Regions from separate parts of the Homo sapiens genome. Here regions 2 and 3 are each linked to region 1. Evidence: fine-mapped expression QTL. A gene starts in region 1. Each other region holds a variant in brackets. All regions are shown on one strand. Distances are from middle to middle. Region 1 holds the start of PNMA1 (PNMA family member 1). Region 2 overlaps MIDEAS (mitotic deacetylase associated SANT domain protein). Region 3 overlaps DNAL1 (dynein axonemal light chain 1).

Region 1 (8,182 bases):
ACGGGCCCATTTTTAAAAATGTAGTATGTGGGCCAGTTGTGGTGGCTTACGCCTGTAATCCCAGCATTTTTGGAGTACTTTCAAACCACGAGGTCAGGAGTTTGAGACCAGCCCGGCCAACATGGTGAAACCTTGTCTCTACTAAAAATACAAAAATTAGCCGGGCGTAGTGGCACACACCTGTAATCCCAGCTACTTGGGAGGCTGAGGCAGGAGGATCACTTGAGCCCAACAGACAGAGGTTGCAGTGAGCTGAGATTACGCTACTGCACTCCAGCCTGGGCAACACAGCGAGACTCCGTCTCAAAAAAAAAAATGCAGTATGTGTGTATATGTGTGGAGTGGGAGTGTGTATACATATGTGGTGGCTGGTTGGTGTTTGGTGGTGGGAGTGTGTGTGGGTGTGAGGAGAAATGGGAATATATGTTGGGGGTGGGAGACTGACATCGTGTACATGTGGAGCAGGAGGAGGGTGTATGTTATGATGGGAGTACTGACGGGGAGATGACAGTGTGTCAAGAGTGTAAGAGGGGTGAGTGTGCACCTGATGCTGGTGGGAATGGAGGGGAAAGTTCTGTGAATGATGGGTAGCAGGTGAAGACATGCCAAGTGTTTGTGGTAAGTGAAGCTGAGCATATCTGTTGGGAACCAAGGCAAGTATGTGGAGATGTTTTTGTGACAGGAGGAAAGGGATGTACTGACATGAAGCGAATACGTGTACCGAAAAATCTGGAAGAACATACATTACCCCTTATAGACTTGTCGAATGGCTCAGCTATAATTTTAAAACCTTATTAGGGAAAGGCTCACTGAACACAATATTCATGTAATAACTTTAGATTCACTGAGGATCTCAAAAGATGGACATCTTCAATCACTGAATCTTTGCAGCAAAATAAACATGTTTTAAAGTTGTATTTCCCTTTTTATATCGTCCTGCTATAAAATGGTTGCTGTAAAATAGCCTTCATTTTACACAGGTGTGATGAATTATAGCTATTTCTTCAGTGAAACAAAATGTTTAGCTGAAAAGTGATCTTAAGAGAAAAACACTGCCAGATAACCTCCTGAACCCCATTTCAAGATTTTCTAAAAAAAAATTTTTTGAGAAACAGGGTCTCACTCTATCACCAGGCTGGAGTGCGGTGGGACGATCATGGCTTACTGCAGCCTCAACCTGCTGAGCTCAAGCGATGTCCCACCTTAGCCGCTGGGTGGCCACCTTAGTGCTGGGACCACAGGCGTGTGCCACCATGCCTGGCTAATTTTTAAAAGTTTGGGTGGAGATTGGGTCTATGTTGCCCAAGCTGGTCTCAAAATCTTGGCTTCAGGCAATCCTCCCTAAGTGCTGGGATTACAAGTGTGAGCCAAATCTGGTATCTAAATTTTTTTTTTTTTTTTTTTGAGATGGAGTCTCACTCTGTTGCCCAGGCTGCAGTGCAATGGCGCAATCTCGGCTCACTGCAACTTCCGCCTCCCAAAGCGATTCTCCTGACTCAGCTTCCCAAGTAGCGGGAATTACAGGCACGCACCACCACACCCGGCTAATTTTTGTATTTTTAGTAGAGACGGCGAGGTGGCTCACGCCTGTAATCCCAGCACTTTGGGAGGCCGAGGTGGGTGGATCACTTGAGGTGAGGAGTTCCAGACCAGCCTGACCAACATGGTGAAACCCGTCTCTACTAAAAAAATACAAAATTAGCTAGGCGTGGTGGCGCATGTCTGTAATCCCAGCTACTCAGGAGGCTGAAGCAGGAGAATCACTTGAACCCGGGAGGCAGAGGTTGCAGTGAGCCGAGATCGCTCCATTGCACTCCAGGCTGGGCAACAGAGCAAGACCCTCTCTGCCCGATAAAAATAAAAAATTTTAAAAATTAAAAAACAAAACAAAAAACTGTTAAGATGACAGCAAGAGGGGAAGGAAAAAAAGGACCTGCCATTTAAATTCACATAGTATCATACAAAGCTTAAAATAAATGGTTTGATTTAATGACAAAGTCTTCATAAGAAAAAAGGACAGTTTACTTAGGCTAAAAATGTTTATACATGCCAGAAAAATGAGAAGACAACAGAATTTTTAAAATATTTTAATTTGTATATATAACTTCAAATTTAGAACACTCAGTATGAACAAGAACTATTCTCTGACAAAGATGTGAAATGGGGGAGTGAATTACTGTACAGGTGCATATCAACCTCTCCATGCAATTTACATCTGTATCTTATGCAATGAGAAACTGGTTTACACAGCTCCGTAACTGCAGTATTTTTTAACACCCCATTTTGCAGTCTCAGAATACTTTTCAATTAAACTGGTCGACATGTTTAAAGATGAGAAATAAGATGTTTGCATTGTAAAGTTGAGTAATAGCTAATAAATGCACACTTCCTTCCATTAATATAAATCTGGAACAATTTATGGTAAACAAAAATCTATCCGCGTTATCAGTAATCTAACAGTGCATACTTTTACTGAACACTTCCTGTGAGCCAGGCCTCGTAGTAAACATCTGAACATGCAATTTCACATTCAGTGTGGAATAAGAAGTGTCATAGGTTCGCGTGTTTTTCACAACTGATTATGATGTCCATGATGACAGCGTGCACTAAGCGCTGTGTCCAACCAACCCTTTACCTGGCATTTTAGCCAGCAAGACCCGCTTGCATTGCAGTCGTTCACGGTGCTCGCTGGCACAATTTTAGAATGTTACATGAATACTCAGGCCTGACTAACCTTCCCCTCCAAAAAACAACAAAACAGAACAAGGCTAAGCCTTTACTACTCAGAGACACATCTGTAAGACCCCACAGGGACAAGAAAAGTAGCTGTGATCTAGGTCTGCACTAAAGCTGCCTTTCCTGGCACTCAGAAGTGCCCTTCCAGGCCTAACTGCAGAAGGGTGGCCTCAGCCTCCTCCTCCTCCTCCTTGGCTTCCTCCTCACGGATCTGCACCAGCAACTGAAAGAGGTTTGGGGCTGGCCCTTCCCCAGCCCCGGTAAGCCACAGCTGCCTTCGGATGGCCCCGCTGTGGTTGGCCCCGGCAATGACCTGCTCTAGGCGGGCCTGGTTCACATTATCTTTATCAATGGCCCCCTTCTCTACCACCTTCTGTAGCAGAGGCTCCAGACGAATGACATAAGCAGACAATTTTTCTCCCGGGTTCTGATAAGTGTTCAGAAATTTGATCTGGGCATCCCTAGAGCTCTCAACGCTCCCAAACACCTGCTCAAGCGCCTTCAGGCATTCGGCAGTGGTTATCGCGGGGTTGTTGGACTTAAGGATGCGAATAACATCAGCGGCGGGGCCTCTAAGACTCTCCATCAACCGCCGCCTCTTTTCTACATCGGACACCTGCCACTCCTCTAGGACCTCATTAGTGTGCTCCAGCCAGGGATCAAAGGTTTCCTCTCCAGGCCCTGGGATGTCCCTCCCCGAGAAAAGTGTCAGCCTCTTGTACCATATGGACTCAACAAGAGGCTGAATAACATTATCCAAAATATAGTTTAGCATCTCTGCTGGCATCTCTGGGCCCGGGGTCGGAGTAGGGTTCTGAAACCCAAGGACACGGGCAACATCTTGCACGGTCCACCCCTCTCTAGCTAGGAAGAGGTGCAATCTTTCTAAAAATTCAGCATCAGAAGTTGGGGGCTTAAATAACACTTTCCAGACCCCTCCTTTGCCCGGCATCTCCCTGGGGATCGCGGCGTAATCTACAGCGCCAGTGAGCTCTAATAAGGCTGCTTTCGCATTTTCTTCCCTCCAGAACATTCTCCCAAGCATTCGGTAGGAGACCTGGGGCATCGCAGCCTGGAGGGTCTCTTCGATTTCAGCCTCATCACAGTTCACTGGGATGCCCCAGACTAACAGAGCTCTCTGGGAGTTCACATCCATCCCCCGGCACCAGTCTTCCAACAGTGTCATCGCCATTTTCTCAACTATCAAGACGCCAAATTCTACCAACAGACTGTGGCTCACCGTGCTCCTGGCCTTAGAACAATACCAGACACTCCCACCAAGTAGGCCCGAGGGAGGCGACCTTCATGCAGTCACGATTAACAAAGACAGAGTCCTGATCTCGCCCTTCTCTGCCCCCACAGTCAGTCCGTAGGTGCACTCGGAGCCGAGCTCGGGGACGCTGAGGCAGTCACGCGGCCGTCGCCATCTTGCGTCTGGGTCTGGGTCCGGTCGGGTCCGCCGCCTGCAGCAGGGGCGTCGCGTCGTCGTGCAGCGGGCGAGGAGCGACGGCGGGCGGCGAAGGCAGGCGCGCTGGGCCGAGAGCCGCCGGGGTGTGGTCGCGGGGCGTGGCCGCCGGGCGCTCGCTGCGGCTCCTGGAGAGGATCGGGCGTTCGCGGTCGCAGCCTGGTCTTCCCGCGGGCGAGGAGCGGCCGTTTGGGAGACTAGCCAGAGGGAGAAACTGTGCCGAAGTCGCGGCGGCTGCGGGCCAGCGGAAAGCGGCTTCTTGGCGGGCGCGGGGACTCCTCTGGGCGGGCGGCGAGGACGGCCGAGGACCAGAAACGAAGGCAGCAGAGGAGCAGGAAAGTCGGAGAAGCGAGGCTGGAGACAGCAGAGGCGAGGGTGGGAAGGGGCGGCCGCGGCGGCCCGCAGCGGTTCAGGCGCTGCGCGGCTGCTCTGGCGTCCAGTCCTACCCGCAACCCGCCGCGACGTTACTGCTGCAGTGGAGGATGGGGCCAGCCGGCGAGCGGCGTCCGCCCCGCCCCGCCCCGTCCCGCCCCCGCGGCGGAGCTGCTCGGGCGTCTCCATGGCAACGGTGTCCCAGCCGGCGCGAGGCACGCCTGCTCCGGCGGCTCGCGGGGGTCGAGCGGTTGCCGTGGAGCCAGCGAGGGGCTCGGGCATTTGTTTCTCTGATGGCGCATTTCCTTTTTCATAATTTAGCATTTTAACAGTAAACAACTACTACTAAGCACCGTGTTTTAAAAATAATAACCCAATCCTGGAGTGGATTTAAGATGATATTGTTGGAAATGCATCCCTCATGGTGGACTTGTCTACTCGGGTTGCTCAGCCAGTCCACCCTGCACGTGAAAATACTCTCCTCAGAACCCTGGCTTCCCGTTGCCCCTGACCACACTGTGCACCCTGCATATTTCATCCCAATGAAGCCAAAATGTCGGAGTGCGCCATTTCTGTGTATTTGTGTGAGACACTGAGTTTAGACTTTTTCTTGTCTAAAATTTTGTAAAAATCTGTCTGTGTCTACTGAGTCATCTTTTAGCCAGGCAAACATTAGTGTATTATTTTCCTTTTCCTGGCTGGCATCATTGACAATAGGCTGCTAAAAGAGAATCCTTATGGTTCAAAAATGTCGAGTAATCTCCCTGCAAGCAAGACAAGGCGCACTTACATCAACCCCAGATGGTGAAAATCCCAAGAGAACAAAGCATTCAACTCTGAATTTTTAAAACCTTATTTAATAAAAGGTTTAAAGATACAGAAGAACATTCAAAAGTAAATAAGTTACATAGGTACATTACAATCACATCAGCAAGATTCTTTAGTGTATTAATTTTTTTCTTATAAAAAGCACACAAAAAATAAAATCTTCAGTCTCTATCACAACTGTACAGCAAAAGAGGTAATATTTATATATGTACACTATTTTAATATGTAACAGTCTTTTTAAAAAAGGATGCCACAGGCAGCAAACACACAAAAGGCAGTGTCTGATCATTTTTGTTTCAAAATAAAAGGAATATACTTATTTATATGCTATTAAAATATCTGTACAATAATTACAGACTGTCAAGGCTGTTCCTGTGCTCTGTCCCCTCCAACAAAGCCTTCAACTTAGAGACAAATGAGGAAAAAGTGAAACAGCTGCAAATTGTTAGAAGCAAATATTAACATAGCAAAATGTGGGGAGGACACAATTGTTTTATAAAAATATCCCTACTTCCTGTAAACCTATGGAGTTAGGCTTGCCAGTCTGATAATAAATACCGTCCCAGAAAAGCGAGCCCCAGTGAAAACAACTAAACAGGCTGAGGCTTGAGTATGTGTTGTATTCCTCCTTCATCTTAACATCTGGCACATGAGAAGAAAGAGGTTAGGTCACTGAGGCAGTTAAATATAGGTGATCCCTTTAGACATAAGCAGCAGAAGACCTTGGTGCCAGGGGTGGAGGCGCGGCAGAAGGGGTGGTATGTACCTTAGCTGTGAGGGGGGCTGCTGAAGGCATGGAGGACAGTAATGACGGCTGTGCCTCCTTGGATGGTGGAGACCTCAGAAATGGTCTGCAACACAGGCACTAGGTCAGTTTCCCGCCCTTAGCTGAATGCAGATGGATGCTGGGAGATGGATATGGTGAGATGGTGTGGGGAGGATGTTAGAAAGCTGGAGGTGTTTATCACTTCTCAAGGAGCTCTGAATATAGGGGGAAAAAAACAACAAAAAGACAAGCCCAGGGAGAAAGCACCATTAAGGATATACCTATGCCAGCTTCTATAGCTGCACCTGCTTTATTGGCAGGTCACTTGCCACAATTGCATCTGCCCTCTAAACTTTTTAATTTTCACACTGTATCCTAGACATGAATGCATAAAATACAGTGTCTGGCGGGATAATGCAGAGAGGTACCATCTTGATTTTCCCCAGTTACATTCACCTGGTCTGGTCTCTGTAAGCTTAGAAGAGTAGAATCACTTTATTTTTTAAAGACTTCCGGCCAGGCACGGTGGTTCACGCCTGTAATGCCAGCACTTTGGGAGGCCGAGGCGGGTGGACCACCTGAGGTCAGGAGTTCAAGACCAGCCTGGCCGACATGGCGAAACCCTGTCTCTACTAAAAAAAAAAATACAAAAAGATTAGCTGGGTGTGGTGGTGTGTGCCTATAATCCCAGCTACTCAGGAGGCTGAGGCAGGAGAATTCTTTTAACCCAAGAGGCGGAGGTTGCAGTGAGCCAAGATCACACCACTGCACTCCAGCCTGGGCGACAGAATGAGACTCTGTCTCAAAAAAAAAAAAAAAAAAAAAAAAAAATTTTTTTTCCAAGTACAAGATGTTACCACTGACAAAAGGGTCTCATATGAATGATGGAGGTTTCTGTTACCGTATGCCCATAAAGGGGCCTGAAACCAAATATGATTTGAATAGAAAAGACCTTGGGAAACATAAGTAGCACTTTGGGGCTAAGCTGCGAAGGCACTCGTATTGTACAAGTAATTTCGAAGAGAGCCTAAATTTGCTACCCCCCTGCTTCTACAGGGTATACCAGATTTTTGCTGTCTTGGGACACTGAGCTCATGGAAGCCTGTGGAGGAAACTAACCGGTAAGCTGGGGATCTAGGTAGTCATCCAAGAGTCTGGAGGGAGAAGAAATTTGTTACTTCCACAGCTGGGGTCCTGTAGAACCATACTAATGTACAAATGGATGCTGAAAAATACCTGCATAGTTTCAAAACAAAACTCCCTCTCCACTCCCAGTTACTGACATGATGCTTCTTGGCTATCTCATAAGGAGTAGCAGTATGAATACTTTCTGGCTCCTTCCTAATACGTTGACCTGTCATACGCGCATTCACTTAGAATTTCTTTTGCACAACTAAAGTTGAATAAGATCAGAAAAATAGCTGAGCCCCGCTATGGGACTGGAAGTGAAGGGGCCTCCAGAACCTCCTGGCCCTTTCACTTCACCCATGCCAAATATGGCTTCTTCAAGCCAGAATCCAGGCCCCATAAACCAAACTAGAATTCTGGCCTCTTGCCAACTCTTCCCTCAGGCAAAGCACAGCCAGAGAAGGGGCAGCAAGAACTGCCTTAATCTCCCTTGCTCTGTGTGGGTCTGGTGACACCCTCCACCTTCCCACGCTCTTTCAGTGTTGCTATCATTCCTATCAGCAAGAGCTTCCAGAGCAACCAGGTGAGGGACCTTAGGGCCTTGGGAATTTAGGGGGTGGGGATAGGGGATGTCAAGATGCCTCGTTTTGGGATAAATGCACTCGGGCCTCTGAAAAGCAGGAGGCCCCTGGTCCCTGAGAGGATGTTAAAAATTAAATACTAAGAATAAATAAATAGCTCCCAAATGACACGAGTCAAGGAATGAAGGCTCCTGTCCAATCGAGTTAGGAGACCTCTCCCTCCCAGGGAAGGATCCAGAAATCTCCAAAGTGCAGGCCTGGGGGCTGGGTTGTGGATATCGACACTGGGTAGGGTGCGGTGGGGTT
Region 2 (8,182 bases), 35 kb after region 1:
CTGGGCTCCTGCCTGCTCCTGACTTCTGGGCTCTCTGGTGCACATGAGAGCTCCTCAAGATGCTGGGATGAAGTGAAAAGGCCCAGCCCGGGATCCCACCCTACCCCTGGCCCCAGGCCCTCTACACCTATGTGGAACACAAGTCCTTCTCCCTGCTGGCCCACAAGCCACCTGCCCTTGACTGTCACCTGCTGCCCCACAACACATGCAGGCCAACTGGAAAAGTGCCAGCTCCACTGTTGCCCTCCACCCCACTTTTCTAGGCTTCTACCCCCACCTAGACAGTGGCCAGGGACACAAGCCTGTGGGTCTGTTTACCTCATGCCCTGACATGGCTGGACCTCAAGACACTAAGGTCTGGCCAGGATGCCAGGGAGCCATAACAAGTCCCTGCCACCCCCACCAGAGGAGCACAGCATGGCCCAGCTGGCCCCCTCATCTGGGCTCACATCCTGAAAAGCTCTCTCAGACATTCTGGGGTCTCCAGCTATAGCCAGACTCGGTAAATGGCCTGGAACTGCCATCTTGGGCCAGCTAGAGTTGCCCAGGCCCTAGACAAACCTTCCCTCTGGACCCCATCTGCAATGCTACATGCACCCCCACCAACTGGGACTTCACACAAAGGCCAGTGTACCCCATTTCTGCAAGCCACTGGACACATAAGCACTATTCTCAAGGGGTTTGCAAACAAGGAGGCTCTGATACAACAGACGTGGATCTGACTCCCACAAGTGTCATTTTCCCTGGGAGCATGAGAGAGCAGGCAAGAGGCCCTATGGTCGGCCCATTCCCAATCCAGACAGTCCCTGGACCATCACTTCTCTGGACTGAACTTCAGCTCTGAAAAGCAGAGCCCAGGCCAACAGGCCAGAGAGTCACGAGTCCCAGGGGTCTCAGCCATCAAGCTGCTCAGGATCAGAAGCTTGGCCAGGGTTCAAGCTGCCTGAAGTTTGAGCTTACACAGTAAAAATGCCAACCACTGAGATGCTTTTAAAGGGATGTGTAAGAGAGGAATCCTTTCAGGGCTTATGAGGCACTCTCAGGGCTCCGTCCAGTCTTCTACCTTGATTGCCTCCCTCCCCCATAGCCCCACAAATGCCCACAGGGTGTCCATGGGAAGCTGGGATAGCCAGGTTTGTTTTGCCAGGGGTGGGGGAGGTGGGGGCTGCTAATGCAGAGAGAAAACAGTCATGAGCAAAGCCAGAAAAGGATTAAGCCTCCAGGCTCAGCTTTTGCCTGCACTGAAGGGACTGCCTGCCTTCCTCCTAGGCAAAGGCCACGAAGAGTCACAGGCAGCCCTGGAAAACCCATTCCAACAGGACCCAGGGATCCCAGCAGGAGTAGGGTAGAAGCAGGCAGGTTTAGGCTTCCTCCGCAGGAGACTCAGCAGATGTTCCTGAGGCCCTCTGGTGAGGGCCTCCTGGGACCGCTGGGGTCCTTGCTCTGTCTCCTCAAAACAGTCTCTATGCCCTATACAGCTCCCACCACTGGAGGCTGCTGCACTACCTCCCTTCCCTTCTGGAAAGGCCTGGCTCCCCAGCAGGGCTAGAGCAGGGCTCTCTGAAGTCTGTGCCTGAGCACCCCAGTGCCAGACTCTGCCCTGGGCCAAAGATACAGATGAGGCCACTCACAGGGGCCTCCCTTGCCATTGCCTTGCCCTGCCCACTCCCCCACCACACACCCTCCCTGCTGCAGCTCTGCAGGTGGGCCTGCTGACCCTTCATCTGCTCCACAAGCATTTGCTGAGCACTTGCTGCAAGCCAGGCTCTGGGAGACACAGGAGACACAGAGCTTCCAGGCCGGTGGGGAGACAGAGAAACAGAAACACACGCTAATTATAATGCAAGGAAGCCCGTGCAGGGACTAGGGGTAAGTGACCCCTGGGGACAGGCAACCCCTGGGGGAGCTCCCTGACTTTGAGCCTCCCCTAGAGCTGTTCCTTCTGCCTGGAAGCCCTGCCTCCACTCTCACAATCTGCTTTCCCTCAAGGCCTACCTCCTCCAGCTGGCCCTCCAGCACATATTGTTGTCACCCATTCTGAATCTTCATGCTCTTATACCACTATCCAATAATGCTTCTTCAATTCCCTTCTGTTCCTGCACAGAGCCTGGGAGCAGCAGGGCCTGGAGACAACATGATCCAAGACGGAGGGCAGTGGACTGTTTGTCAGGTAACCAACCAGATGTCTGGTCCAGGAGCCGCCACTCACTGGTTCCTGCCTTTGAGGAGCTTAAGAGCCTGGGGTGGGAAGAGACCTGTATCCAGGGACCAAAGAAACACCTTTGTAAAAAGCAAGTGCCACCAGGACTAGCTGCATGCCGAATATGCGAGAGTACTGCTTATCTGCATAACCACTTATTTCCAACTGAGAAACGAGAAAGGCTGGCTCTGAAAGTAACTTGTCCCAGTTCACAGAACTCATGACTGAGGAGTCAAGATTCAAATCTAAGCCTCCTGACCCCAAACCAGGTCTCTCTCTGTCACTGTGTCAATACCCGTCTGTGTGGATGTCAAGCAGTGGTTCTTAAACCTCAGTGTGTGCAATAAAACCCACCCTGAGAGACTAGTTCATGGGTCTGGTGGGGTGGGGGTCGGGGGTGGGAAGAGCACGATGGGGAATCTAGGATGCTTCACAAGCAGCCAGGTGGTGCCCATGCACTGGAGCAGGGGAAGGGCTAAAGGGCCACAGCCTGGCATAGTGAAGTTTCCCAGGACCCACCACTCCCCATTCCCCAAAGGCACTACCTGTCAGAGTGCTATGGCCTGCCCAGGAGACATGAGGGGTCGCACAGAGCCCTGAGGGGACTCTGCTCTCAGCCAGTCCTAGGGTTAACTGTGGCTCTTACCACGCCTGGGACCCAATTGAGTGCCCATGTTTACTGAGCACTTACTATTTGCCAGGCACTGTGCTAAGTCCATTGCAGGCAGCATTTTGTTTAACCCTTACTGTTCTGTGTCTCGTTATTTACAGACCAGGAATGGTATACTCAAAAATATCTATTTAACATAAAGGAAGACAGTAATAGAAGAACAAAAGAATAAAAAAGACATAAGACATACAGAAATCAAATCACAAAATGGCAGCATAAATCCTACCTTATCCATAATTACTTTAAATGTGAATGGATTAAATATCTAAAAGGCAGAGGTTGGCAGAATGGACTTTTAAAAAAATATGCAATTATATGGCAGAACAGACTTCTTTAAAAAAGATGCAATTTCATTAAAAAAAGAAACACCCTTTACATTCAGAGATATAAATAGGTTGAAAGTAATTAGCAGGGCATGGTGACACACGCCTGCAGTCCCAGCTACTCGGGAGGCTGAGGTAGGAGAATTGCTTGAACCCAAGAGGTGGAGGTTGCAGTGAGCCCAGATTGCGCCACTGCACTCCAGCCTGGGCAACACAGTGAGACTCTGTACCAAAAAAGAAAAAAGAAAGCAAGGGATGGAAAAAGAGATACCATTGTAAACAGTCACCAAAAGACAGCTAGAATGGCTATACTAATATCAGACAAAATATGTGGTGGCAGGCACCTGTAATCGCAGCTACTCAGGAGGCTGAGACAGGAGAACTATTTGAACCTGAGAGGTGGAGGCTGCAGTGAGCCAAGATCGCGCCACTGCACTCCAGCCTGGGCAACAGAGCTAGACTCCGTCT[CAAA/C]AAAAAAAAAAAAAAAATCAGACAAAATAGACTTTAAGACAAAAACTGTTATTATAGACAAAGAATATTTTATAATGAACAAAGTGTCCGTCCCTCAGGAGGCTATACCAGTTATAGACATGCATGTACCTAACAACAGAGCCCCAAAATACATGAAGCAAAAACTGTCAGAATTGAAAGGAAAAAATGAACAACTCAAATAACAGTAGGAAACTTCAATACTCTACTTTTTTTCATGTTATTTTATACATACACATGAGAGAGAGAAAACACTCTACTTTCAACAACGAACAGTACGACTAAATAGAAGATCGACAAGGAAATAGAAGATTTAGACACTATAAACCAATTAGACCTGGAAGACCTATATAGAACACTCCACCTAACAACAGCAAAATACACACAAATACACACTCTTCTCAAGAGCACACAGATACTGCAGCTGTAGGTGAACTGTTTTTTTGTTTCTTTTTAAAAAAGAGCAGGCCCGGCACAGTGGTGCCTGTAATCCCAAAATTTTGGGAGGCCAAGGCCAGGAGGATCACTTGAGCCCAGGAGCTCAAGACCAGCCTGGGCAACAAAACGAGACCGTGTCTCTACAAAAAAAAAAAAAAAAAAAATTAGCTGCGTGTGGTGGCCACTATAGTCCCAGCTACTCAGGAAGCTGAGGCAGGAGGATTGCTCGGGCCCAGGAGGTTGAGGCTGCAGTAAGCCGTGTTCATGCCTCTGCAATCCAGCGTGCATGAAAGACCAAGATCCAGTCTCAGAAAAAATAAAAAATACATACTTTTTTATATATTATATAATATAATATATATATAAAATATATATATGTATATTTATAGCACAAGGAACACTCTCTACAATAGATCATCATTAGGCCATAAGACAAGTCTCAACAAATTTAAAGGGACTGAAATCACTCAAAGTATGTTCTCCAATCAAAACGGGTTGAAATTGGAAATCAATAACCGAAGGAAATTTGGGAAACTTACAGGAAACGAAGGTTAAAAGTAACTTGCCAAGTTCTCTCAGCTCAGAAAGGCCCCTCCCTCCTCAGCCCATGTTCTCCACACCTTCGGTGTCACAGTCCTAGGCAGCCGCAGAGCTCAGACTTGCAAAGGCCTGGGTATCCCCTCTCCCAGACACACATTGAACCTGACCCCAAGCTTGATCCCGACATCAAAACAACTAGGGGATGGAGAGGCCTTTGGGATTGCAACAGCTTGTCAGGCAGCCCTGCTTTTCCCTAGGAAAAATGGCCACAGGCAAATATTTCCACTTCCATGGCCAATCTACAAAATATCCAAAAGACAGATCCTTCCCAAAAGAAGGGAGCTAACGAGTACTTCGCTGGGCTGGGTCCTCTACAAATTCGAATCCATGCTTATAAACCTCCTATGGAGGAGTCTTATGTCCTCATTCTCCAGAGGGAAGTTGAGGCTCTGCTGTTACAGAGCCAGAAGCAAGATTCAAATCTTTATCTTGTGTCTTCCAAGTCCTTGCTCTTTCCACCACCCTCCCAGAAAAATCTGAAATCTACACCGGTGGGCCTCAGAAGGAATGCTACACTTGAGAACTTCACAAAGCCAGCTCCGGAGCTGCTGCTCTTCCCTGGGGGCATTTCCAAGCACAGCATGGTCTATTAACACTCCTCTTAAGAAATTATCCTAGCCCCAGTCAGCCAGAAACAGTTTCCCCTCCAGACTGGGGGTATCTGTAAAAGCCCCTGGAAGCCAAGAGAGCCCAAAGGGTGTTGAGGTATGGGGGACTGCAGAGGTGAGCTGGAGGCTGCAGGCTCAGCACCATCTCACTCTGGAATAAAAGCCTCCATGCCACATGGAGAAAGGTGGCTTGGGCCTCTCTTCAGAGCCAACTGGCAAAGCAGGGCCCAGCTGGGAAAGCTGAACAGATTCCAAATATCAAGGGATGTCAATGTTTACCTACTCCAATTCCTCGTTCCACAGAGCAGTCCAGAGAAGGAAATAAACTCGTCCGAGGACACACAGCCAGGAGCAAAATCAAGGACTCCAATAACAATGCTTCATGCCTCCATTTAGGCAGGCCCCACCACTTGGCAAGACACTGGGCAAAGCATGGAGCCAAGGTTTATCCCAACATCACACAAACAAGGCTTCATCAATACCTCCAAAATTTCCATTGAAGGTGCTACTATGTGCCAGGCATGGTGCTAAGCACACTACACACATTATCCTGTGTAATCATCTCACAGAAAGGTAGATATTATCATTATTATTTTTGTAGAGATGGAGTCTCACTTTGTTGCTCAGGCTGGTCTTGAACTCCTTGCCTCAAGGGATCCTCCCAACTCAACCTCCCAAAGTGCTGAGATTACAGGCGTGAGCCACCACACCAGGCCATCAAGGTAGGTATTATTACTCCTCCTTTCTAAACAAGAAATCTGAGAAGACCTTAGGTCAAATCACTTGCCTAAGGTCACAGCAGTATAGAGGCAAAGCCAGGACTGGCACCTAGGCCTGCCTGTTCTGCAAACTTCCTCCCCCAAGAGTTTCAGACTTGGAGGTCACACCAGGCTGCCTGGGATAGACAGCAGCAGCCTCTGGGTTGCTCACGTCTGCTCCCTGGAGAGCAGCTTCAGCCCCTGAAAACCACCATGATGTTCTGAGATGTGGCTGGTCGGGTAAAGTGGGTGGGAGAGGCCGGGCAGGTGAGTGGCTTTGAAGGTGAAGAGGCTACAGGTGATTACCTCCAGTGGGCCAACCTGTGGAGGGCTCGGCATCTTTGCCTAAGAGGAAGTCACACCCCTTCCACACCCTCCAACCCCACAACTGAGGTTAGCCAACAGCTCTTTAAAAATAAAGCCAGGCCGGATGCAGCGGCTCCCGTTTGTAATCCCAACACTTTGGGAGGCCAAAGCAGCTGGACCACCTGAGGTCAGGAGTTTATGAGACCAGCCTGACCAACATGGAGAAACTCTGTCTCTACTAAAAATACAAAATTATCCAGGCATCGTGGCGCACACCTGTAATCCCAGCTACTCGGGAGGCTGAGGCAGAAGAATCGCTTGAACCCAGGAGGCAGAGGTTGCAGTGAGCCAAGATCGTACCACTGCACTCCAGCCTGGGCGACAAGAGCAAAACTCTGTCTCAAAAAAATAAATAAAGTCTTGGCTCTCCCCTGCTTGTCAGATAACTCAAGTCCCCATGGAGTCTAGGCTCCTGTCCCTTCTCCTGGCACCCTGAGCTCTGGGTCAAATCAGGTCTCTGCTTGGGTTCCCCCACTCAGGACACTGAGCATTAGCCCCCAGCCACAGCCACCCATATCTCCACATGGTGCTCTCAGAGTGTTGCTTCTCCCAATAACTTAACTTCCTAAATAAAATATATTCATCGCACATCCCGAGTAGAGGAGACAGAGGTGCCCACTCACTCCAAAGATCATTTGTCCAAACCTCAATTTCATGGCTCATAGAACCAAGACCTCAAAGGTAAAATGACCTGCCTAAGGACACATGGCTGACTACCTGAGCAGAGCTATAGTGACGGCCTCCCAGGTAGATGTTCTCACACTTAGCACCCCTAGACCTGGCATTGCCAGGTCCTTGACATTCGTCTGGGGGAGGTAAAGCAGGGGGTGTAGCATGTGTGTCAAGCCTACCAAGTCTTCATCAACCCAGGCTCTCCTGACTGGTCAGGGCTGGAAAGGGCCAAGACCCACCTGGTGCTTGGGGGTTGGATGGGTCGGTGTCTGGCAGTGTAGTGTGAGAGTAAAGAACGGGGGCAATATGGCTCCCTAGTACATGCTAGCGACCAGGAAGCAAAAAAATTTGCCACCAGCAGAGGGAGGGGAGTCTCAGTGTGGCTGCCTGGGGCCTCCTAGAAGGGCTGCAAACTGGGCACAGACAGACGCCCATTTGACTCCAGAGCCATCACATCAGCCTCACGCCCTTCCTCAGGCCCTGGTCAAGATGCAAGACTTTTGCCAAAGGCTCACACATTCTTTGCATTTCTCCAGTCTCTGAGCAGCTGCTGCAGGGCCTTTTCTCCTATGTTGATTTATTCTTTATTGTTCCTGAAATACACCCAGAGGCCTTTGGCACAGCATGCGGGCACAGCAGAGCATCCAGCCCAAGCCCCAAGTACACACCAACCAGACTCTCTGGGACCTGGGCCAAGCCAGCTGGAATGATGGGCCCCAGGTCAGACCCAGCAGCCAAGAAGGGAGACCAAAGATTCCACCTAGCCCCAGCCTTTGATTCCCCAGAGCTGTTCTCAGTACCTCAGAGGCTGGGATACCTTTAAGGGGGAGGACACACTTGGGAGGTCCCCAGGAAGCCCACACTAAGCTGAAACCAAGCCTTTCCCCTCTTCCTGTGCATGTGCCTGGCCGAGCAGTCCCCAGGCCCACAGCTGAGTCCTCCACAGAAGGGCCTCAGGGCTCAAGGCTGGGCTCCTGGCTGCCCTGTGAAGCATCTGGAGAGGGAGGCAGCAGGGAGGTCTTCCCCACCCTTCCCAGCCCAAGATATCTCCCCTACCA
Region 3 (8,182 bases), 36 kb before region 1:
CAGGCTAAATGTAACTTTGAGTTATCTATAAAGAAATAGTTTGCAGATAAATGTACTCCAGAACTTTTAGTGTCAATATACTTGATGTTCCCCCAGGTATTTATAGAATCCCTTATAGAATCCCAAATTCTCAAGTATTACTATAGCATGTAATTTATTCCATAAAATGTAATAAATACCCAGAGACCACAAATAAATTATAAATATAGGATTAAAGGTATGTATTGTGTATTAAGATGCTATCTGGCTGAACTATCACTTGTTTTAGATATCGTCACTTTTTATACACTCCTATCAATGATAGCCAATAGTTGTTTTTCTTTCCAGGGTGTAATGTGGGGTTTTGTCCAAAAGCTTTATTGCTTATTTGCAGAATAAAGAAAAACAAAGCTATGGCTGGGCACAGTGGTTCATGCCGGTAATCTGGCACTTAGAAGGCCAAGGTGGGAGGATCCCTTGAGGCCAGGAGTTTACCTGGGCAACATAGCAAGACTTCGTCTCTACTGAAAATTTAAAAAGAAATTAGCCAGGCATGGTGGTACATGCCTATAGTCCCAGCTACTCGGGGAGGCTGAGGTGGAAGGATTGATTGCTTGAGCCTAGGAGTTTGAGTTTACAGTGAACTATGATTGTGCCATAGCAATGCAGTCTGGGTGACAGAGGGGAAAAAAAAAAGGAAAGAAAAAGAAAGCTGCATTGGGATGCAGATACTGGGTTTCTAATATGTTCACATACTAGATGACTTATTCATCTAGACACATCTGCCTCATAGCATGATTTAAATAGCTGTCTCAGTAAATTAAAAATGATTACTGTAATGTGTGAAACATGGAATGTTAAGTTGAAGGAAAGGGGTTGATTTATAACTATTCAGGAAAACTATTGAGGTACATTATAAACCCATTTGTATATATGATCTGGCCTTTGCCTTCCTTTCTGATCTCATTTCATGTTTCTCTTCTCCTAGTTGATAATCTCTAGTGACTGGCCTTCTTTCTGTTCCTTGACCATGCACAATTCATTCCCACCTGAGAATCTTTATACTTGGCTGTTCCCTCTGTCTTAAAAACTCTATTGCCATGGATTTCCACAATGCGGACCCCTTCTTAACCCTCACACTTCAGCTCAGATGTCACCTCCTCAAAGGTGACCCAATCACGATGTGGGCTCCTTCTTGATCTTTACACCTCAGCTCAGATGTTGCTTCCTCAAAGGTGACCCAATCACGATGTGGGCTCCTTCTTGATCTTTACACCTCAGCTCAGATGTTGCCTCCTCAAAGGTGACCCAATCACCGTATATCTAAAGCAGCTCTCTAAGCACTAATTCTTTTTGTTTTAGACGAGGTCTCACTCTGTCACCCAGGCTAGAGTGCAGTAGTACAATCACAGCTCATTGCAACCTTGACCTCCTGGGCTCAGGCCATCCTCCCACCTCAGCCTCCTGAGTAGCTGGGGCCACAGGTGTGTGCCATCATACCAAGCTAATATTTTAATTTTTTGTAAAGACAGGGTCCCACTATGTTGCCCAGGCTGATCTCAAACTCCTGGGCTTAAGCAATACTCTGGCCTCAGCCTGAGCTGAGTAATTCCAAAGTGCTGGAATTACAGGCGTGAGCCACCATGCCTGGTGGAGTAACTATTTTTTTGAGCCAGGGTCTCACTGTGTCGCCCAGGCTGGAGTGTCTCCTGGGCTCAAGCAGTCCTCCCGCTTCAGCCTCCCAAGTAGCTGTGACTAAAGACACACCTCATCACACTCAGCTAATTTTTTTGTATTTTTAGTAGGGGTCTCGCCATGTTGCCCAGGCTGGTCTTGAACTCCTGGGCTCAAGCAATCCACCTGCCTCAACCTCCCAAAGTGCTAGGATTACAAGCCTGAGCCACCACGCCTGGCTGAGTAACTCCTACCAGTTGTAATTTTATTTTTTCATGTTACTCATTATTACCTGAAATTCTTGTTCTTGTTCTCTCTCTCTCTCTCTCACACACAAACACACACACACACACACACAAATCCTAATGACCATTCAGTTTTGATTTTTGTTTGCTTAGAGACAGGTTCTCACTCTCTCACCCAGGCTGGAGTGCAGTGGCATGATTACAGCTCACTGTAATCTCGGACTAGTATAGTTTACTATAATCTTGAACTCCTGGGCTCCAGCAATCCTTGCTCCTCAGCCTCCTAAGAAGCTGGCACTACAGGTGGATAGCTGGGATTACAGGTGTGCACCACCTTGCCCAGCTAATTAAAAAAAAAATTTTTTTTTTGTAGTGATGGAGTCTTACTATGTTGTACAGGCTGGTCTTGAACTCCTGGCCTCAAGTGATCCTCTTGCCTCATCCTCCCAAAGTGCCAGAATTACAGGCGTGAGCCACTGTGAGGGCCTGGCCATTTCAGTTTTGTTAATTAGCATCTACAATAGTGCTTGATATATATAGTAGACACTCTGTAAGTGTTTATTCAGTGACTCAACATGTTTTATTACAGTTACACAACTATTAAGTTAAAATTGTAGGCTGGGCGCAGTGGCTCACGCCTGTAATCCCAGCACTTTGGGAGGCCGAGGCAGTGGATCACGAGGTCAGGAGTTCGAGACCAGCCTGACCAACATGGTGAAACCCCGTCTCTACTAAAAATACAAAAATTAGCCAGGCCTGGTGGCGCGTGCCTGTAATCCCAGCTACTTGGGAGGCTGAGACAGGAGAATCGCTTGAATCCAGGAGGCAGAGGATGCAGGAGCCGAGATTGCGCCATTGCACTCCAGCCTGGGCAACAGAGTGAGACTTTGTCTCGATAAATAAATAAATAAGTAAATAATAAAATAAAATATTTTTTTTTTGAGACGGAGTCAAAATTTTAATTCTAGGCCAGGCGTGGTGGCACGTACCTGTAATCCCAGCTACTAGGGAGGCTGAGGCACAAGAATCACTTGAACCTGGGAGGCCGAGTTTGCAGTGAGTCGAGATCACGCCACTGCACTCCAGCCTGGGTGACAGAGCAAGAGACTGTCTCAAAAAAAAAAAAAATTTTTTTTTTAATTCTATAAGTACCATATGTTCATTGCGAAAACAAATCAAGCAATTTATAAATATGTGAAATATGCTGTGAAAATCTTTGGTCTTTCTACCTCCTATTCCCTACCAGCTCCATGAAGTAACAAAAATTTTATTGTTTTGTGCACTTTAAAATATTTTCTGTGGATATACAAATAAATAGCTCTGTGTATATGTGTGTGTGTGTCATATTGTTTGTTCTGATAGTGTACAAGCCATTTTTTCCTGTAATTTAGCTTTTTCTCTCAACAATATATCAATAATATCCTTCAATGTCAATACATGCAGATTTAATACATTAAAAATAGCTGTGTAGTTTTCTACAGTATCAGTATACAATCATGTATTTAACTATTCCTATACTGCTGGGCATTTCGATTATTTCCAGGTTTTTTTTTCTTGGGTGAGGAGTGTGGGTTTTCTCTCTCTCTCTCTCAATTTCTTCCTCTTTCCACAAATCATGTTGCAGTGAACATCTTTGCACACATGTCCCTCAGCAGTTATTTGCGTATTTACATGTGATGGGATAGATTTATGAAAGTAGAAAA[G/A]CTGAGGATATTTTTGTGCCTTTAAATTTTTGATAGGTACCTCAAATTGTTCCCACAATGCTAATGCTAGTTTCTATTTCCATCACTGGCACATGGATGAAGATTATCCCCTCCACCCTCAACATCAGTGAGTAGTATTCATTTTTTTTTTTTTTTTTTTTTAATTGAGATGCAGTCTTGCTCTGTCGCCCAGGCTAGAGTGCAGTGGCGTGATCTCGGCTCACTACAAGCTCCACCTCCTGGGTTCACGCCATTCTCCTGCCTCAGCCTCCCAAGTAGCTGGGACTACAGGCGCCCGCCCCCACACCTGGCTAATTTTTTGTATTTTTAGTAGAGACGTGATTTCACCTTGCTAGCCAGGATGGTCTCGATCTCCTGACCTCGTGATCTGCCCGCCTCGGCCTCCCGAAGTGCTGGGATTACAGGCATGAGCCACCGCGCCCAGCCAGTAGTATTCATATTTTTAACATTTGCCAGTATGATAGGCAAAATGGAGTCTGGTGGTGGTGTTGATTTTTTCTTTTTTTTTTAGAGGCAGGGTCTCGCTATGTTGTCCAGGCTGAACTCAAACTCCTGGGCTCAAGTGACCCTCTTGCCTCAAGTCTCCTGAGTAGCTGGGACTACAGGCCACTGTTCGCGGCAAGTACCGTGTTGTTTTAATTTCCATTATCTAGTCAGTTCTGACTTTGAATGTCTTTTCTTTATAAACATATATATAAATATATTTATTTATTTATTTATTTATTTTTTTTGAGACGGAGTCTGGCTCTGTCGCCCAGGCTGGAGTGCAGTGGCATGATCTTGGCTCACTGCAAGCTCCGCCTCCCGGGTTCCCGCCATTCTCCTGCCTCAGCCTCCTGAGTAGCTGGGACTACAGGCGCCCGCCACCACGCCCGGCTAATTTTTTGTATTTTTTAGTAGAGACGGGGTTTCACCGTGTTAGCCAGGATGGTCTCGATCTCCTGACCTCGTGATCCGCCCACCTTGGCCTCCCAAAGTGCTGGGATTACAGGCGTGAGCCACCATGCCCGGCCCATATATTTATATATATATATATATATTTGTGTGTGTGTGTGTGTGTGTGTGTGTGTGTGATGGTGGTCTGACTTTGTCACCCAGGCTGGAGTGCAGTGACACAATCTCAGCTCACTGCAACCTCGACCTCCTGGGCTTAAGTGATCCTCCCACCTCAGCCTCCCAAGTACTTGGGACTACAGGCACGCACCACCACACCCAGGTAATATTTTTTATTTTTTGTAGAGATACGGTTTCACCATGTTGCCCAGGCTGGTCTTGAACTCCTGAGCTCGAGCAATCTGCCCATGTCGGCCTCCCAAAGTGCTTAGGACTACAGGCATGAGCCACTGGGCCCAGCTGAACATCTTTTTATATACTAGTCATTTAGGTTTCATCTTTTGGAAATTGACCAAACACATTTTTAACCTATTTTTCTACTAGATTTATCTTTTTCTTACTGAATTATAGGTACTTTTTAATATCCCTAATAATTATCAATATTGAAAATGCTATTATATTGTTGTTGTAATTATCATTTATTAACCACATAGTAGGCTCTTTACATGCATTATCTCATTTCCAGCTCACAAGTAGATGTTATTATCCTTATTTTAAGATAAAGAAACTGAGGCTCAGTTATGTAAAGTATTCAAATATAGTGAGCAGGTATTCTTTTTTTTTTTTTTTTTTTTTTAGCAGTGCTACCCCATAGGCAGTGTGCCTGGAGTAGCAGTTGTGAACAGGCATCCTTAAACACTGTTGCTGAGACAGGCAGTTTGTCAATAGCTATCACAATATTCAATGTGTATTTCTTTGTCCCACCTATTCTATATTTAGGAGTTTTTCATACATGGACAAAGATGGTAGAGCAAGTATTTCACTGCAACATAGCTTATACAAAAGACTGCAACAATCTAAGTGTCTATCAGCAGTGGACTAGCTAAATATATTAATAAATACTATGCATTGAGGAAAAACAATGAGGTGGAACTTCCCTCTGTGTGTTGAAATGGAATAATTTGCAAGATATATGAAGTGTAGAAAAAGCAAAGTGAATATTTATATGTACATATATGCATAGAGTATTTCTGGTGATAGCTGTTACTTCTGGGCAAGGGAGCTGGGGTATAGGGTGAGAAAGACTTTTCTATTTTTATTTATTTATTTATTTTTTTGAGACGGAGTCTCGCTGCATCCCCCAGGCTGGAGTGCAGTGATTGGATCTCGGCTCACTGCAACCTCCACCTCCCGGGTTCAAGCGATTCTCCTGCCTCAGCCTCCCAAGAAGCTAGGACTACAGGCACATGCCACCACACCCGGCTAATTTTTTTATTTTTAGTAGAGTCAGGGTTTCACCATATTGGCCGTGCTGGTCTGGACTCCTGACCTTGTGATCCGCCTGCCTCACCCTCCCAAAGTGCTGGGATTACAGGCGTGAGCCACCGTGCCCGGCCAAGACTTTTGTTTTTATACTTGTTGGTTTTTTTAAATCTTGTGTACATTTTTAATACTCTTTCTGTTAAAATACTGATTATTTTCTCCTTAAAAAATGCAAACAGAAAAATGCACTCATGTTTGTAGTAGCATTATTTATAATAGCCAAAAGGTGGAAGCAACCTAAGTGTTCACTGAGAGATAATTGGATAAACAAACAAAAAAGAAGCTAATGAAGTAGAGGGGAAGGGCAGAAGGAAAGGGGAGGCAGAGAAGAGGAAGAAGCAGAAGACTTAAGTCATGTTAGTCAGACCCTGGCAATCTGATCACAGTTTCCACATTGAAATTTAATGCAGTTTTCAAAACTGATATATTTTCTCTTAGTTTGTTTCTTGTCTTTTTACCTTATTCGTGGTTACCAAATGGTATTTAAAAATTTTTGTTAGTCAAATCTTTATGGTTTCAGTGTTTTGTATTTTACATAGAAGGTCTTAGGTACTAGATTGTAAAAATAGTCTTATCTTCTTAATTAAAAATTTTAAGTCTATACTCTTAATTCATCTGGAGTTTATTTTTACATGTGTCATGAGGCGCAGGTATCATGTCTTTTTTTTTTTTCTTTAATTGGTTAGCCATTTATTGAAAAGTCTCTTTTTCCTACTGTTTGTAAATGCCACCTGCTAAACTCCTGGATATGCATGGGTAGGTTCCTGGATGGTCAGTTTCTTTCTGTTTGTTGTTCTTTCTATAAATTTCAGCTTCAATATCATGCTGCTTTAATTTTCTTTAACTTTAGAATTTATTTTGATATCAAGAAAAATCCTCTCTCCTTTTTCAAAATATTTGTGGGCATTTACTCTTCAGAGAAACTTGAGAATCATTTTATCAAATTATCTTAATATATCTTGCAAATTATTCCACTTCAGCACATACAGGTAAGTTCCACCTTGTTTTCCTCAATGCATAGTATTAATATATTTAGCTAGGCCACGGCTGACGGACACTTAGGTTGTTGCAATCTTTTGTACAAGCTGTGTTGCTCCACCATCTTTGTCCATGTATGAAAAAACTCCTAAATATTACATTTGTGAATTGATTTGGAGAGAAGTTATAGCTTTATAATAATGAATCTTATGAGAAGACGTATTCATATTTTTTATGTCCTTCAGTAGAATTCCATAGTTTTAATTCCTATAAGACCTTGTATATTTCATGTATAAAGATTTATTTCTGAGTAATTCTTAAATTGACACATTATAATTATACTTATTCATGGGGTACAATGCTATGTTTTGATACATATATATACGTTGTGTAATGATCAAACCAAGGTGATTAGCATATCAATCACTCAAACATTATTTATTTATAGTGAGAACATTAAAAATCTTCTCTTCTAGCTATTTTGAAATACAGTCATGCATCACATAATGACTGGGATATATTCTGAGAAATGCAACATTAGGCAATCGTTGTTGTGTGAACATCATAGAGTGTGCTTACACAAACCTAGATGGTATAGCCTACTACATACATAGGCTATATGGTTTAGCCTATTGCTCCTAGGCGACAAACCTGCTCAGCATATCACTGTACTGAGTGCTGCAGGCAGTTGGAACACAATGGTAAGTATTTGTATATCTAAACATAGAAAAAGTACAGTAAAAATACAGTGTAAAATATAAGAAATGATACAGGTGTATAGAGCATTTATCATAAATGGAGCTTGCAGGACTGCAAGTTTTTCTGGATGAGTCAGTGAGTGACTGATGAGTGAATGTGAAGGCCTAGGACATTACCGTACACAACTGTAGATTTTTTGTTGTTGTTGTTATTTGTTGTTGTTGGGTTTGTTGTTTTTTTGCTTTTTTTTTTTTTGAGACGGAGTCTCACTCTGTCACTGAGGCTGGAGTGCAGTGGCACCCTGTCGGCTCACTGCAACCTCCGTCTCCTGGGTTCAAGCAATTCTCTTGCCTCAGCCTCCTGAATAGCTGGGATTACAGGAGCCCACCACCATGCCCGGCTAGTTTTTATATTTTTTACTAGAGATGGGGTTTCACCATGTTGGCCAGGCTGGTCTCAAACTCCTGACCTCAGGTAATCCACCCGATTCGGCCTCCCAAAGTGCTG

What was found. PIP is the estimated chance that this variant, and not a neighbour inherited with it, causes the effect.
Region 2: its variant is fine-mapped to the expression of PNMA1 in whole blood (INTERVAL, PIP above 0.99).
Region 3: its variant is fine-mapped to the expression of PNMA1 in whole blood (TOPMed, PIP 0.97).

Annotation. Positions count from the first base shown.
Region 1 is chr14:73,709,712-73,717,893 of GRCh38, forward strand. It overlaps PNMA1 (PNMA family member 1), which reads right to left and starts at 4,673. Exons shown (of 1, transcript NM_006029.5): 1 at 2,072-4,673. The coding sequence starts at 3,928. The coding sequence ends at 2,867. It overlaps MIDEAS (mitotic deacetylase associated SANT domain protein), which reads right to left. Exons shown (of 13, transcript NM_001367710.1): 13 at 5,411-8,182. RefSeq lists enhancers at 4,069-4,128, 5,069-5,138 and silencers at 4,219-4,388, 4,569-4,848.
Region 2 is chr14:73,745,107-73,753,288 of GRCh38, forward strand. The region is part of intron 1 of MIDEAS (mitotic deacetylase associated SANT domain protein); the gene reads right to left. It overlaps LOC124903345 (a long non-coding RNA gene), which reads left to right. Exons shown (of 3, transcript XR_007064264.1): 3 at 2,105-2,339. Among named protein-coding and RNA genes, the nearest start is that of MIR4505, 9.5 kb to the right of the region's middle. RefSeq lists enhancers at 1,356-1,870, 1,871-2,384. The variant CAAA/C (reference allele first, on the strand shown) is at 3,662.
Region 3 is chr14:73,673,222-73,681,403 of GRCh38, forward strand. All of the region lies in intron 5 of DNAL1 (dynein axonemal light chain 1), which reads left to right. Among named protein-coding and RNA genes, the nearest start is that of DNAL1, 32 kb to the left of the region's middle. The variant G/A (reference allele first, on the strand shown) is at 3,602.